Homo sapiens: one gene and its partner. The protein of the gene in region 1 purifies or fractionates together with the protein of each later gene. This does not show direct contact. Each region holds a gene or a part of one and is shown in the gene's direction. Other genes may lie near its edges.

Region 1 (5,332 bases):
TTTTTTTTTTTTGAGACAGTCTCACTCTGTCGCCCAGGCTGGAGTGCAGTGGTACAATCTCGACTTACTGCAACCTCCGACCCCCAGGTTCAAGCGATTCTTGTGTCTTAGCCTCCTGAGCAGCTGGAATTACAGGTGCTCAGCACCACGCCCAGCTAATTTTTTTATCTTTAGTAGAGATGGGGTTTCGCCGTTTTGGCCAGGCTGGTCTCGAACTCCTGACCTCAGGTGATCTATTCACCTCAGCCTCCCAAAGAGCTGGGATTATAGGCATGAGTCACAGCGCCCTGCCTAAAAGTGTTGTTGTGGTTTTTTTTGCCAAATTTCAAAGCCTAGTTTTCTCATAAACATCACTGCCATCTTTTTAAGTACATTGTTTTTTGTTTGTTGTTTTGTTTTGTTTTGTTTTGTTTTTCAGGCATTTGGACATTAGTATAGATGCATTGGGTAAATTAAAAATTATTGGCCAGGCACGGTGGCTCCCACTTTGGGAGGCTGAAGTGGACAGATCGATTGAGTTCAGGAGTTTGAGACCAGCCTGGACAACATGGCAAAACCCCGTCTCTACAAAAAAATTAAAAATTAGCCAGATGAGGGCCAGGAGCGGTGGCTCACGCCTGTAATCCCAGCACTTTGGGAGGCTGAAGCGGGCAGATCACTTGAGGTCAGGAGATCAAGACCATCCTGGCCAACATGGTGAAATCCCATCTCTACTAAAAATACAAAAATTAGCTGGGCGTGGTGTCTGGTGTCTGTAATCCCAGCTACTTGGGAGGCTGAGGCACGAGAATCATTTGAACCCGGAGGTGGAGGTTGCAGTGAGCCAAGATCGCACCACTGCACTCCAGCCTGGGTGACAGAATAAGACTCTGTCTAAAAAAAAAAAAAAAACTATTTTACCTCAGTTTAACAAAAGGAAAAAAATATTAGAAACCGATTAGGCTATTCATTTAGTTCAACATACTTATGTATTTTCAGTATGTACTAAAGTACTTGTGTAGTTTCTGGAGAGAAGTTTGGAAGTTTCTACTTGTTCTTGATTTCTAAACCAACTTTGGTCATCTCATTTCATTTCTTTAGAGTAGAAGGTATATTTTCCCTTTCTTCACATGTTTACCTTTTTAGGAATTTTTGTTAACATTGAAGTAATTATTAAATATCAGGGATGCCTACAAAAAAATAATGATCAGGCCGGGTGCAGTGGCTCACACCTGTAATCCCAGCACTTTGGGAGGCCAAGGTAGGCAGATCACCTGAGGTCAGGAGTTCAAGACCAGCCTGGCCAACATGGTGAAACCTGTCTCTACTAAAAATAGAAAAATCAGCCAGGCTTGGTGGCAGATTCCTGTAATCCCAGCTACTCTGGAGCCTGAGGCAGGAGAATCGCTTGAACCCAGGAGGTAGAGGTTGCAGTGAGCTGAGATCGCGCCACTGCACTCCAGCGAGGGCGACAGAGCGAGACTCGATGTCAAAAAAAAAAAAAAATTTATGATCAAATCTTTTAGTGCCTAGTAAAATGATATAAGAAATGTGCCTGGAAATATTCTGCAGTTAAAATTCATAATATTTAATAAATATTCAATGTTTTGTGTTTTAATAAGTTCGTCAGACCTTAGAACTGAGGGAAATTTTGCCAACTTAAAATTCTAATTTCTGTCTCTCTGTACTTTAATTTTCAGCTCGAAGACGCGACGTCCATTTGTCGAAAGAACAGGAGAGCCGCCTACCCTCTCACTGGCTGAAAAGCAAAGGGGCCCACACCACCATGGCAGATGCCCTCTGGCGCCTTCGAGATTTGATGCTCCGGGACACCCTCAACATTCGCCAAGCATACAACCTAGAAAATGTTTAATCACATCATTACGTTTCTTTTATATAGAAGCATAAAGAGTTGTGGATCAGTAGCCATTTTAGTTACTGGGGGTGGGGGGAAGGAACAAAGGAGGATAATTTTTATTGCATTTTACTGTACATCACAAGGCCATTTTTATATACGGACACTTTTAATAAGCTATTTCAATTTGTTTGTTATATTAAGTTGACTTTATCAAATACACAAAGATTTTTTTGCATATGTTTCCTTCGTTTAAAACCAGTTTCATAATTGGTTGTATATGTAGACTTGGAGTTTTATCTTTTTACTTGTTGCCATGGAACTGAAACCATTAGAGGTTTTTGTCTTGGCTTGGGGTTTTTGTTTTCTTGGTTTTGGGTTTTTTTATATATATATATAAAAGAACAAAATGAAAAAAAACACACACACACAAGAGTTTACAGATTAGTTTAAATTGATAATGAAATGTGAAGTTTGTCCTAGTTTACATCTTAGAGAGGGGAGTATACTTGTGTTTGTTTCATGTGCCTGAATATCTTAAGCCACTTTCTGCAAAAGCTGTTTCTTACAGATGAAGTGCTTTCTTTGAAAGGTGGTTATTTAGGTTTTAGATGTTTAATAGACACAGCACATTTGCTCTATTAACTCAGAGGCTCACTACAGAAATATGTAATCAGTGCTGTGCATCTGTCTGCAGCTAATGTACCTCCTGGACACCAGGAGGGGAAAAAGCACTTTTTCAATTGTGCTGAGTTAGACATCTGTGAGTTAGACTATGGTGTCAGTGATTTTTGCAGAACACGTGCACAACCCTGAGGTATGTTTAATCTAGGCAGGTACGTTTAAGGATATTTTGATCTATTTATAATGAATTCACAATTTATGCCTATAAATTTCAGATGATTTAAAATTTTAAACCTGTTACATTGAAAAACATTGAAGTTCGTCTTGAAGAAAGCATTAAGGTATGCATGGAGGTGATTTATTTTTAAACATAACACCTAACCTAACATGGGTAAGAGAGTATGGAACTAGATATGAGCTGTATAAGAAGCATAATTGTGAACAAGTAGATTGATTGCCTTCATATACAAGTATGTTTTAGTATTCCTTATTTCCTTATTATCAGATGTATTTTTTCTTTTAAGTTTCAATGTTGTTATAATTCTCAACCAGAAATTTAATACTTTCTAAAATATTTTTTAAATTTAGCTTGTGCTTTTGAATTACAGGAGAAGGGAATCATAATTTAATAAAACGCTTACTAGAAAGACCATTACAGATCCCAAACACTTGGGTTTGGTGACCCTGTCTTTCTTATATGACCCTACAATAAACATTTGAAGGCAGCATAGGATGGCAGACAGTAGGAACATTGTTTCACTTGGCGGCATGTTTTTGAAACCTGCTTTATAGTAACTGGGTGATTGCCATTGTGGTAGAGCTTCCACTGCTGTTTATAATCTGAGAGAGTTAATCTCAGAGGATGCTTTTTTCCTTTTAATCTGCTATGAATCAGTACCCAGATGTTTAATTACTGTACTTATTAAATCATGAGGGCAAAAGAGTGTAGAATGGAAAAAAGTCTCTTGTATCTAGATACTTTAAATATGGGAGGCCCTTTAACTTAATTGCCTTTAGTCAACCACTGGATTTGAATTTGCATCAAGTATTTTAAATAATATTGAATTTAAAAAAATGTATTGCAGTAGTGTGTCAGTACCTTATTGTTAAAGTGAGTCAGATAAATCTTCAATTCCTGGCTATTTGGGCAATTGAATCATCATGGACTGTATAATGCAATCAGATTATTTTGTTTCTAGACATCCTTGAATTACACCAAAGAACATGAAATTTAGTTGTGGTTAAATTATTTATTTATTTCATGCATTCATTTTATTTCCCTTAAGGTCTGGATGAGACTTCTTTGGGGAGCCTCTAAAAAAATTTTTCACTGGGGGCCACGTGGGTCATTAGAAGCCAGAGCTCTCCTCCAGGCTCCTTCCCAGTGCCTAGAGGTGCTATAGGAAACATAGATCCAGCCAGGGGCTTCCCTAAAGCAGTGCAGCACCGGCCCAGGGCATCACTAGACAGGCCCTAATTAAGTTTTTTTTAAAAAGCCTGTGTATTTATTTTAGAATCATGTTTTTCTGTATATTAACTTGGGGGATATCGTTAATATTTAGGATATAAGATTTGAGGTCAGCCATCTTCAAAAAAGAAAAAAAAATTGACTCAAGAAAGTACAAGTAAACTATACACCTTTTTTTCATAAGTTTTAGGAACTGTAGTAATGTGGCTTAGAAAGTATAATGGCCTAAATGTTTTCAAAATGTAAGTTCCTGTGGAGAAGAATTGTTTATATTGCAAACGGGGGGACTGAGGGGAACCTGTAGGTTTAAAACAGTATGTTTGTCAGCCAACTGATTTAAAAGGCCTTTAACTGTTTTGGTTGTTGTTTTTTTTTTAAGCCACTCTCCCCTTCCTATGAGGAAGAATTGAGAGGGGCACCTATTTCTGTAAAATCCCCAAATTGGTGTTGATGATTTTGAGCTTGAATGTTTTCATACCTGATTAAAACTTGGTTTATTCTAATTTCTGTATCATATCATCTGAGGTTTACGTGGTAACTAGTCTTATAACATGTATGTATCTTTTTTTTGTTGTTCATCTAAAGCTTTTTAATCCAAATAAATACAGAGTTTGCAAAGTGATTTGGATTAACCAGGTTTGGTTGTTCTGTTAAAGTGGTGTCAGATGTTTCAAGCAGATTTAACTCCTGCAAGCCCTGATTTCATGCTGACAAGGTTGTATGTGACTGCCAATTTAAGAGAACAAAGCTCCACAGATGGAGATGAAAGTCAGTGTCCAGACCTCTGGTTCAGGGCTCGGGCTGCATTAACACAGAGCCAAATGTAGTCAGACTGCAGACTGAAGTGCCCCACGCCACGCCTCAGGCTGGCAGTCAAGGAATTCCTACATGTCCTCAGCATGGGCAGAAATGCAGGTTGAAATTAAAATTGGAGAATTACTGAGGGCGGAAAGTGAGGAAAGCATGTAAGCAGTATAGCCCACTTCAAATAGCTTGTCTGTGGCCAGAAGAAACAGGTGGCCCAGGTGTCTTTAACATCTTTATAAACTCTTAAAACATGACCATGCTTTTAATAGAAAGTGTTGGTAAAAGCAACCAACTGTTTTCCTCTAATATCACTTTGCAAATCCCTGTGGTTCTGTTCTCCTGAATTTAGGATAGTACCGGCATCTGTGCCCCTGAGCATATTTTGAACAATCATTGATGTATAGCTAGACATCCCATCTGAACACTGAGCAAACAAATATTGCTATTATTCTGTTCCTTTTTTTTTTTTCTTTTGAGACGGAACCTCACTCTGTCACCCAGGCTGGAGTGCAGTGGTGCAACCTTGGCTCACTGCAGCATGCGCCACCATGCCTGGCTAATTTTTGAATTTTTAGTAGAGACAGGGTTTCTCCATATTG
Region 2 (7,285 bases), on another chromosome or scaffold:
ATCATATACTCTGTGGCCTTTTGTGTCTGACTTCTCACTCAGCATAATGTTTTCTTTCTTTTTGTTTTTTTATTGTTTTGTTTTTTGTTTTGTTTTGTTTTGGAGACAGAGTCTCACTCTGTCACCCAGGCTGGAGTGCAGTGGCATGATCTTGTCTCACTGGAACCTCCGCCTCCTGGGTTTATGGGATTCTCCTGCCTCAGCCTCCCAAGTAGCTGGGATTACAGGCGCGCGACACCACGCCTGGCTTACTTTTGTATTTTTTTAGTCGGGGGGGGGGGGGGGTTTGCCATGTTGGCCAGGCTGGTCTCAAACTCCTGACCTCAGCCGATCCACCCACCTTAGCCTCCCAAAGTGCTGGGATTACAGGCGTGAGCCACCGTGCCTAGCCTGTTTTTGTTGTTGTTGTCGTTTTTTGAGACAGTCTTACTCTGTCGCCCAGGCTGGAGTGCCGTGGCATGATCTCGGCTCCCAATCCAGGAGGTGGTCCTGGGTTCAAACGATTCTCCTGCCTCAGCCTCCGAGTAACTGGGATTACAGGCGTGCACCACCATGCCTGGCTAATTTTTGTATTTTTAGTAGAGACGGGGTTTCACCATGTTGGCCAGGCTGGTCTTGAACTCCTGACTTCAAGTGATCCGCCTGCCTTGGCCTCCCAAAGTGGTGGGATTATAGGCGTGAGCCGCCGCGCCCGGCCAGGGCTCCTAGTCTGAGAAGTAAGTGTCAACCCTGCTCAGACTCCCTGGGAAGGAGGGTCTTGCTGTCCCGTTCCCCCGCCCTCTGTGTCCCGGCCTGTCCCAGGCCCTGCACTGTCTCCTTCTTCTTCCCATCTTGCCTGCTTGCTTTTAAACTTAAGCATGGGTTATTTTCCCCTTTGTTATTACTCTGCCTCAGAAACCCCAGCAGGGAAGTCTTGGTCGCACAGGCATTCTCTAGGATTCGTTTCGTGTGTGCTTTTTAACATCAGGGTACCATGGTGTCCGGGCCTCGGGTAGGATTTTTGCTGCCCCTTCACGAGTGTCTGGCTCTGTGTCCAGTAAGCTTTAGGAAAAACCGCTGCCGCCACTGCCTCCTCCCAAGCTGCACCCACCCCCCCGCCCCATCCAGCCTGCACCTTCCTTCTGCTAAAGAAAACTTGGGGTGGAGCAGCAGGAAGACAGGCATGAGAAATCACCCGAATAACTGGGTTCATTCTACTGGCGATTCCTTGATGGAATGGTGTGCGGCCATCTTGTAAGCTGTGATATTTAAAGAACCTTTAAAGACATGAAGAATTCCTCCGAAATACCACATGACCCCCATTTGGGAAGAGGAGAAAATTTGTACGCATGGAGGGAGGGGAAACTGGAAAGACGGGAATTAATCCTCTAAAACATTAGTGGGGTGGTCCCTGGGTGGTGACAGGTGATTTTTAACTTTATTTTTTCTGTACTTTTCTGTTTCCTGCAATGGTCAGTCATTGCTCTGGCAATCGGAAAAATACCCTTATTATTGTTATTATTTTGAGACGGAGTTTCGCTCTGTCACCCAAGCTTTAGTGCAGTGGCGCGATCTCGGCTCACTGCAACCTCCGCCTCCCGGGTTCACGCCATCCTCCTGCCTCAGCCTCCCGAGTAGGTGGGACTACAGGCGCCCGCCGCCACCACGCCCGGCTAATTTTTTGTATTTTTAGTAGAGACGGGGTTTCACCGTGTTAGCCAGGATGGTCTCGATCTCCTGACCTCGTGATCCGCCAGCCTCGGCCTCCCAAAGTGCTGGGATTACAGGCCTGAGCCACCGTGCCCGGCCAAATACCCATATTATTAAGAGAAATGTTTACAAAAGGTTAGGACGAAGCCACCTTGGCTGCGGGAGAGAGGAATTGACAGCCATGATTGTTGGTGCGCACTGCGGCCGCCAGGGGGTGCTGGGTGCACGCAGCACAGAGACTGCAGCCTCCTCCAGTCGCCTCCCAGGGCCCTCAGCAGCTAAGTGTGCAGGAGAGGGTTGCAGACGCCAGGGTCCGTGTGTGACCTGGCTGCTGGAAACAGCGCCACTGAAAAATCAACAGGAGACTCCCCAGCCCTCCAGCCCCCCAGCTCATTGTAGCCTTCAAAGACCACTGGCCCCAAAACTACCCGATTCAAGGTATTTTCAGTATTTGGCCCCACCGGCCCCGCCTCTCACGTGTCTGAAAACAGCTCCTGTCGTCTTGCTCTTCCCTCAGATGCTTCTGATGAGCAGAATTCACAGTCCTCGATGGAACATTCGATGAACAGCTCAGAGAAAGTAGATCGGCAGCCGTCTGGAGACTCGGGTCTGGCCGCAGAGACGTCTGCAATCTCTCAGGTACCTCGCTCGAGGTCTCAGAGGGGCAGCCAGATCGGCCGGGAGCCCATTGGGTTGTCGGGGGTACGTTGAAAGGTGTTTCGTCATTGTGTTTTGTTGTTTTGTCGTTGGACCATTGGAACTGTCATTTGTCCATTGGGCTATGTCCATGAACACAGTCCTGGGCTCTGCCTTGGGCTCTGGGGCCGAGGGATAATGAGACTTGTGGCCTCTGCCCTCAAGGAGCCTCTGGGTCGGAGGAGGATGAAGGGACCTTGAACCCAGCCTCGGCTGCTACGTTTTGTCTGTTCAGGTTCACACAGGCATTGCCTCATCTCAGTGATCCCCAGATCGGTGACCTTTAGAGCTGGGAAGACAAGACTTCAGAAACCTAAGTGGTGGGGCCTCCGACGGAGCGGTGCTGCTGGCCCCACTTGCACTGCATGGGCCCCTCTCCAGGGCATCACTCTGTGTTGGAATCTGGTCTGAATGAGTCAGCACAGGTGCAGTGGGGCCCGGTGGTTAGGAGCAAACCTCCCAGAGTCGGGCCCAAGTTTGAATCCCAGCTCCCAAAATGGGATCACGGAACTGTCTTAGGGCCACCGTGAGGATTCGATGGGAGAACTTGGGTAAAACACTTAGCATGGAGCGGACACAAGATGCAGAGGTGTCATTGGCCATGACCACTATTAGGATTTTTCACTGTAAATCCTCTAGACTTTTTTTCCTTCGAGACAGAGTCTCACTTTGTCACCCAGGCTGGAGTGCAGTGGCATGATCCCGGCTCACTCCAACCTCCACCTCCTGGATTCAAGCAATTCTCCTGCCTCAGCCTCCCAAGTAGGTGGGATTACAGGTGCCTACCACTCTGCCTGGCTGATTTTTGTATTTTTAGTAGAGATGGGTTTCACCATGTTGGCCAGGCTGGTCTCAAATTCCTGACCTCAAATGATCCACTCCCTCAGCCTCTCAAAGTGCTGGGATTACAGGCGTGAGCCACTGCGCCTGGCAACTTCAAAATCTTTAAACCCTTTGATTGGCAGGTCCCTTTCCAGAACCTCACCCCATGGAACCCCCTCCACATGCCCTAGCTCTAAGGGGCTGCTTAGGGAAATCTGGGGTCTTGTCTGAGACAGACTAGGGCGCAGCCATCTAGAAGAGCATGGTTGTGCCTTCCAGGTTCTGATAAACATTCTTGCAGCGTGCAGTGAGAAAAGCAAGCTGCAGATCCGCAGGCGTAGCATGAGCCCATCTGGTTAAAAACAGTAGAAACCAAAGCCTGGTGATTTATATTAAGACCAAAGTTGTCGGCTGGGATCTCTGGGCCTCTTGATCTCAGAGAAGAAAAGCTCAGCTTGAAACTTTGATCCATACCCTGAGAGTATCCAATGCTCCCCCGCAGTACCTGGAAATGCCAGGAGTCCCCCATTCTCACATCGCCCCCACTACCCCACACTCTTGCTTCCAGGAGACCCAGACCTAAAATTGGGCCTCTTCCACCATTTTCACAGGCACACCGACACACATATTGTCCACAGAGCTAGGTGTGTGAGTGACATGGAGGATGTACTCCAGTAAAGCAGACAGCCTGACATTTCAAGCAATACGTTTTTGGCCGGGTGCAGTGGCTCACATTTGTAAGCCCAGCACTTTGGGAGGCTGAGGCAGGTGGATCACTTGAGGCCAGGAGTTCGAGACCAGCCTGGGCAACATAGCAAGACCCCGTCTCTCCAACAAAAAGAAAAAGAAAATTAGCCAGGCATGGTGGTGCGCTCCTATAGTCCCAGCTACTCTGGAGGCTGAGGCGGGAGGATTGCTTGAGCCTGAGAGTTCAAGGCTGCAGTGGGCTATGATCCTACCATTGCCCTCCAGCCTGGGTGACAGAGCAAGACCCTGTCTCAAAAAAATAAATACAGAAAAAAGGAGAGAAAGGACAGAAAGGTAGCCTTCCTGACTCCCTGCGATCCCTGCTCCCAGGGTCCCCCAGAAGGGGCTCATGTCACTGTCTCTGCAAGTCCATCGCATGTCCTACTCGAGGCCTCTCCTCTGCAACATTTATCTCTGAGAACCCACCATGGACCAGGGGCTATACCTAATCCCTGCCTGCCACAGTGGGGCTGACAATGGGCTCAGGATAAGCAGACACAAGTAGGTCACAGAGTCCCACTAAGTGCCGTGAGAGAGTGAAACAGGGTGACGTGAAGAAGCAGAACAGGCCATGGGTAGAGGGTGCTGTGGCTGGCGTCAGCAGGGAGGGGCTGGCTGTGAGCCGGACATGAAGGGGGCCCAGGCTGGGACGGTGAGCTCTCCAGGCAGGGGCAGACCAAGGTGCAGAGACCTCAAGACAGGAGCCAGCTTGAAGAACGAAAGAGAGGCCAGGGTGGCCGGGGAGGCCAGAACCTGGTGGGTGAGGAAGAGAATGGTCTGATGAGGGAAGAAGTGGGCCAGGCTTGTCACTAGGGCCTTCTTGGTCCTGGTGAGGAACTGGGTTTGTTCAGAAGTCAGTAGGAAAGTTGTGGAATGCTTTGTATTTGTAAGTTGTGGTTTCTATTGGAGGAAGGTTGCTGGGGCCATCCTGTTGGCCACAAGCAGGCTGCTCCATCAGCCAGGCCAGAGGCCGGGTTGGAGGGGGGGTGCGGGCGGAGAGGTGGCTTCAGGGGGTGTCCAGGCCTGGGTCTTTCTCCCAGGCTGATGGGGAGCACCAGTTAGGATGGCTGCGGTCAGGAGTTTGGTCTCAGGTGACAGGTTAGGTTTGAGAGGCCCAAGACAATTGTGTGATGGATGAGTGAGTGTTAAACCTTTTCTGGTGTCCTGGGTTTCATGGGAATTCAGTGACAACTACAGACCCTTTCCCCCAGAATAACACACACACATATGTGTATACCCAGCAAATGCTGAGAGTCCAGCCCAGACCAGGCACTGTGCCCAGCCCTGCAGGAGCAGGAGTCTACATGGCAGAGTGGGTCTGGGCCTCTGGGAGATGGCCTAGAACTTGCAGAGATTGCCAGGCATCATGGCTCACACCTGTAATCCAAGCAGTTTGGGAGGCTGAGGCAGGAGGATCCCTTGAGCCCGGGAGTTCAAGACCAGCCTGGGCAGCATAGCAAGACCCCATCTCTACAAAAAACTTAAAAAAAAAAAATCATCCGGGCATGGTGGCACATGCATATAGTCCCAGCTACTCAGGAGGCTGAGGCAGGGGGATCCTCTGAGACCAGGAAGTCGAGGCTGCAGTGAGCTATGATGACCACTACACCCCAGCCTGAGCAGCAAAGCAAGACTCTGTCTCTAAAAAAAATTATAAAAAGAACTTGGAAAAGCTGGTGCGGTGGCTCACGCCTGTAATCCTAGCACTCTGGGAAGGTGAGGCGGGCAGATCACCTGAGGTCAGGAGTTTGAGACCAGCCTGGCCAACATGGTGAAACATGGAGACATGGTGAAACCCTGTCTCTACCAAAAATACAAAAAATTAGCCAGGCATGGTGGTGTGCACCTGTAATCCCAGCACTCTGGGAGGCCGAGGTGGGCAGATAACCTGAGGTCAGGAGTTTGAGACCAGCCTGGCCCACATGGTGAAACCCCGTCTCTACTAAAAATACAAAAATTAGCCGGGCATGGTGGCGCGTGCCTGTAATCACAGCTACTTGGGAGGCTGAGGCAGGAGAATCACTTGAACCCAGGAGGCGGAGGTTGCAGTGAGCCAAGATTGCCCCACTGCACTCCAGCCTGGCAACAGAGTGAGACTCCATCTCAACAACAAAAACAAGAACTTGGAAAGGTGAACTTGAAACAATAATCACAAGTAATCACCCTAGCAATGAATCATAGATGGGAAGATTGATAACAGCAACTTCTGGTCCAGTCTGAATGAGTGGGGAGAGCCTAGGGTCCAAGGCAGCAGTGTAGGAAATGCTCCCGAGTTACCAGCCATTGGCATGTGATAGGGTCAGGCAGGGGCCAGGGGACACCGCGCTCCATAGCTCCAGGAAGAGTTTGGGTGTGAGGGTCTCCATAGGTCCTCAAACTCTCTGGAGTCCACGCTTGGGCCTCGGGTCTGGAACTGCTGGTCTGAACCACAAAGCCGCCCCCGCTCGGTTCCTTCCTTGGCTGACCTTCGGCCTCACGCCTGGCCTAACTTGCTCTCCTGGCCCATTAACCTGTGTTCCCCTTTTCTCCTCTCCCCAAGGATTTGGAAGGAGTGCCACCCTCTAAAAAGATGAAACTGGAGGCCTCTCAACAAAACTCCGAAGAGATGTAGACGATGCTTTAAAGCCTCCGATCCATGTTCCATGGAAGGTACATCAGCAATTAATTCTAGAGCAACTTTGCCCCAGCGATTCCTCTTGGGTGCGAACAGAACTACTAACGTTTCAAGTTTACCAAGTGCAAATCCAAGAAGACCCAGAACGGCGTCACTTCTCAGACACTGAAGAACTCTGCTGTGAAGCAAAACACTCAAACCTTTAAGGGACTGTCCTTGGGGAGGCAGGCGGGGCTGACAGCTCAGGAGTGTCTGCACACTGTCTCGGAAGCCAGGATTCCATTTGTGTTGCTGCTGTATTTTCCCCCCACTTCTCTATGTAACGATATAAGCTATCGGAGGGTGGTACCGATCAGGAACGCTTTTTGGCGGGGCTTTCCACTGTTCAACCGATTCCTTCCGCTTTCTTTTTTTGTGCCTTGTGCCCTTGAGGTGACCTCTGGCATGTATCCTGGTGGTTCTTACATCCCCCTCTGCAAAGTGCCCTCTTGGTTTGGTTCGGGCGGCGGCTGCCACCCTACTCACCGCTCTCCTCCCTGCCCCAGGACTTCATCGGAGCAGGCAGGGTGGAGCGAAGGAGCTCCTTAGCCCACCTGGTTTGCAGGTGCAGGGGGACCTTAGGCACGCCCCAAGCACCAGGCACCAGGGCCCAAGGACGCGCAGGTGTTGGGGCACAGTCCCCAAGGGCTCGGCCCCTTGGATCAGGCTGGGCACTCG

The links.
Region 2: the proteins of PBRM1 (region 1) and BCL7A purify together in Homo sapiens (affinity purification with mass spectrometry; 4 studies listed by BioGRID and IntAct, with this or other methods). This does not show direct contact.

What each region holds. Positions count from the first base shown.
Region 1 is NC_000003.12:52,544,583-52,549,914, reverse strand, and holds the end of PBRM1 (protein polybromo-1), read left to right. Parts: intron 1-1,679; coding exon 1,680-1,852; 3' UTR 1,853-4,548; downstream 4,549-5,332. UniProt on the Homo sapiens protein: Involved in transcriptional activation and repression of select genes by chromatin remodeling (alteration of DNA-nucleosome topology). Required for the stability of the SWI/SNF chromatin remodeling complex SWI/SNF-B (PBAF).
Region 2 is NC_000012.12:122,052,599-122,059,883, forward strand, and holds part of BCL7A (B-cell CLL/lymphoma 7 protein family member A), read left to right. Parts: intron 1-2,206; coding exon 2,207-2,328; coding exon of another isoform or gene 2,329-2,391; intron 2,392-6,493; coding exon 6,494-6,565; 3' UTR 6,566-7,285.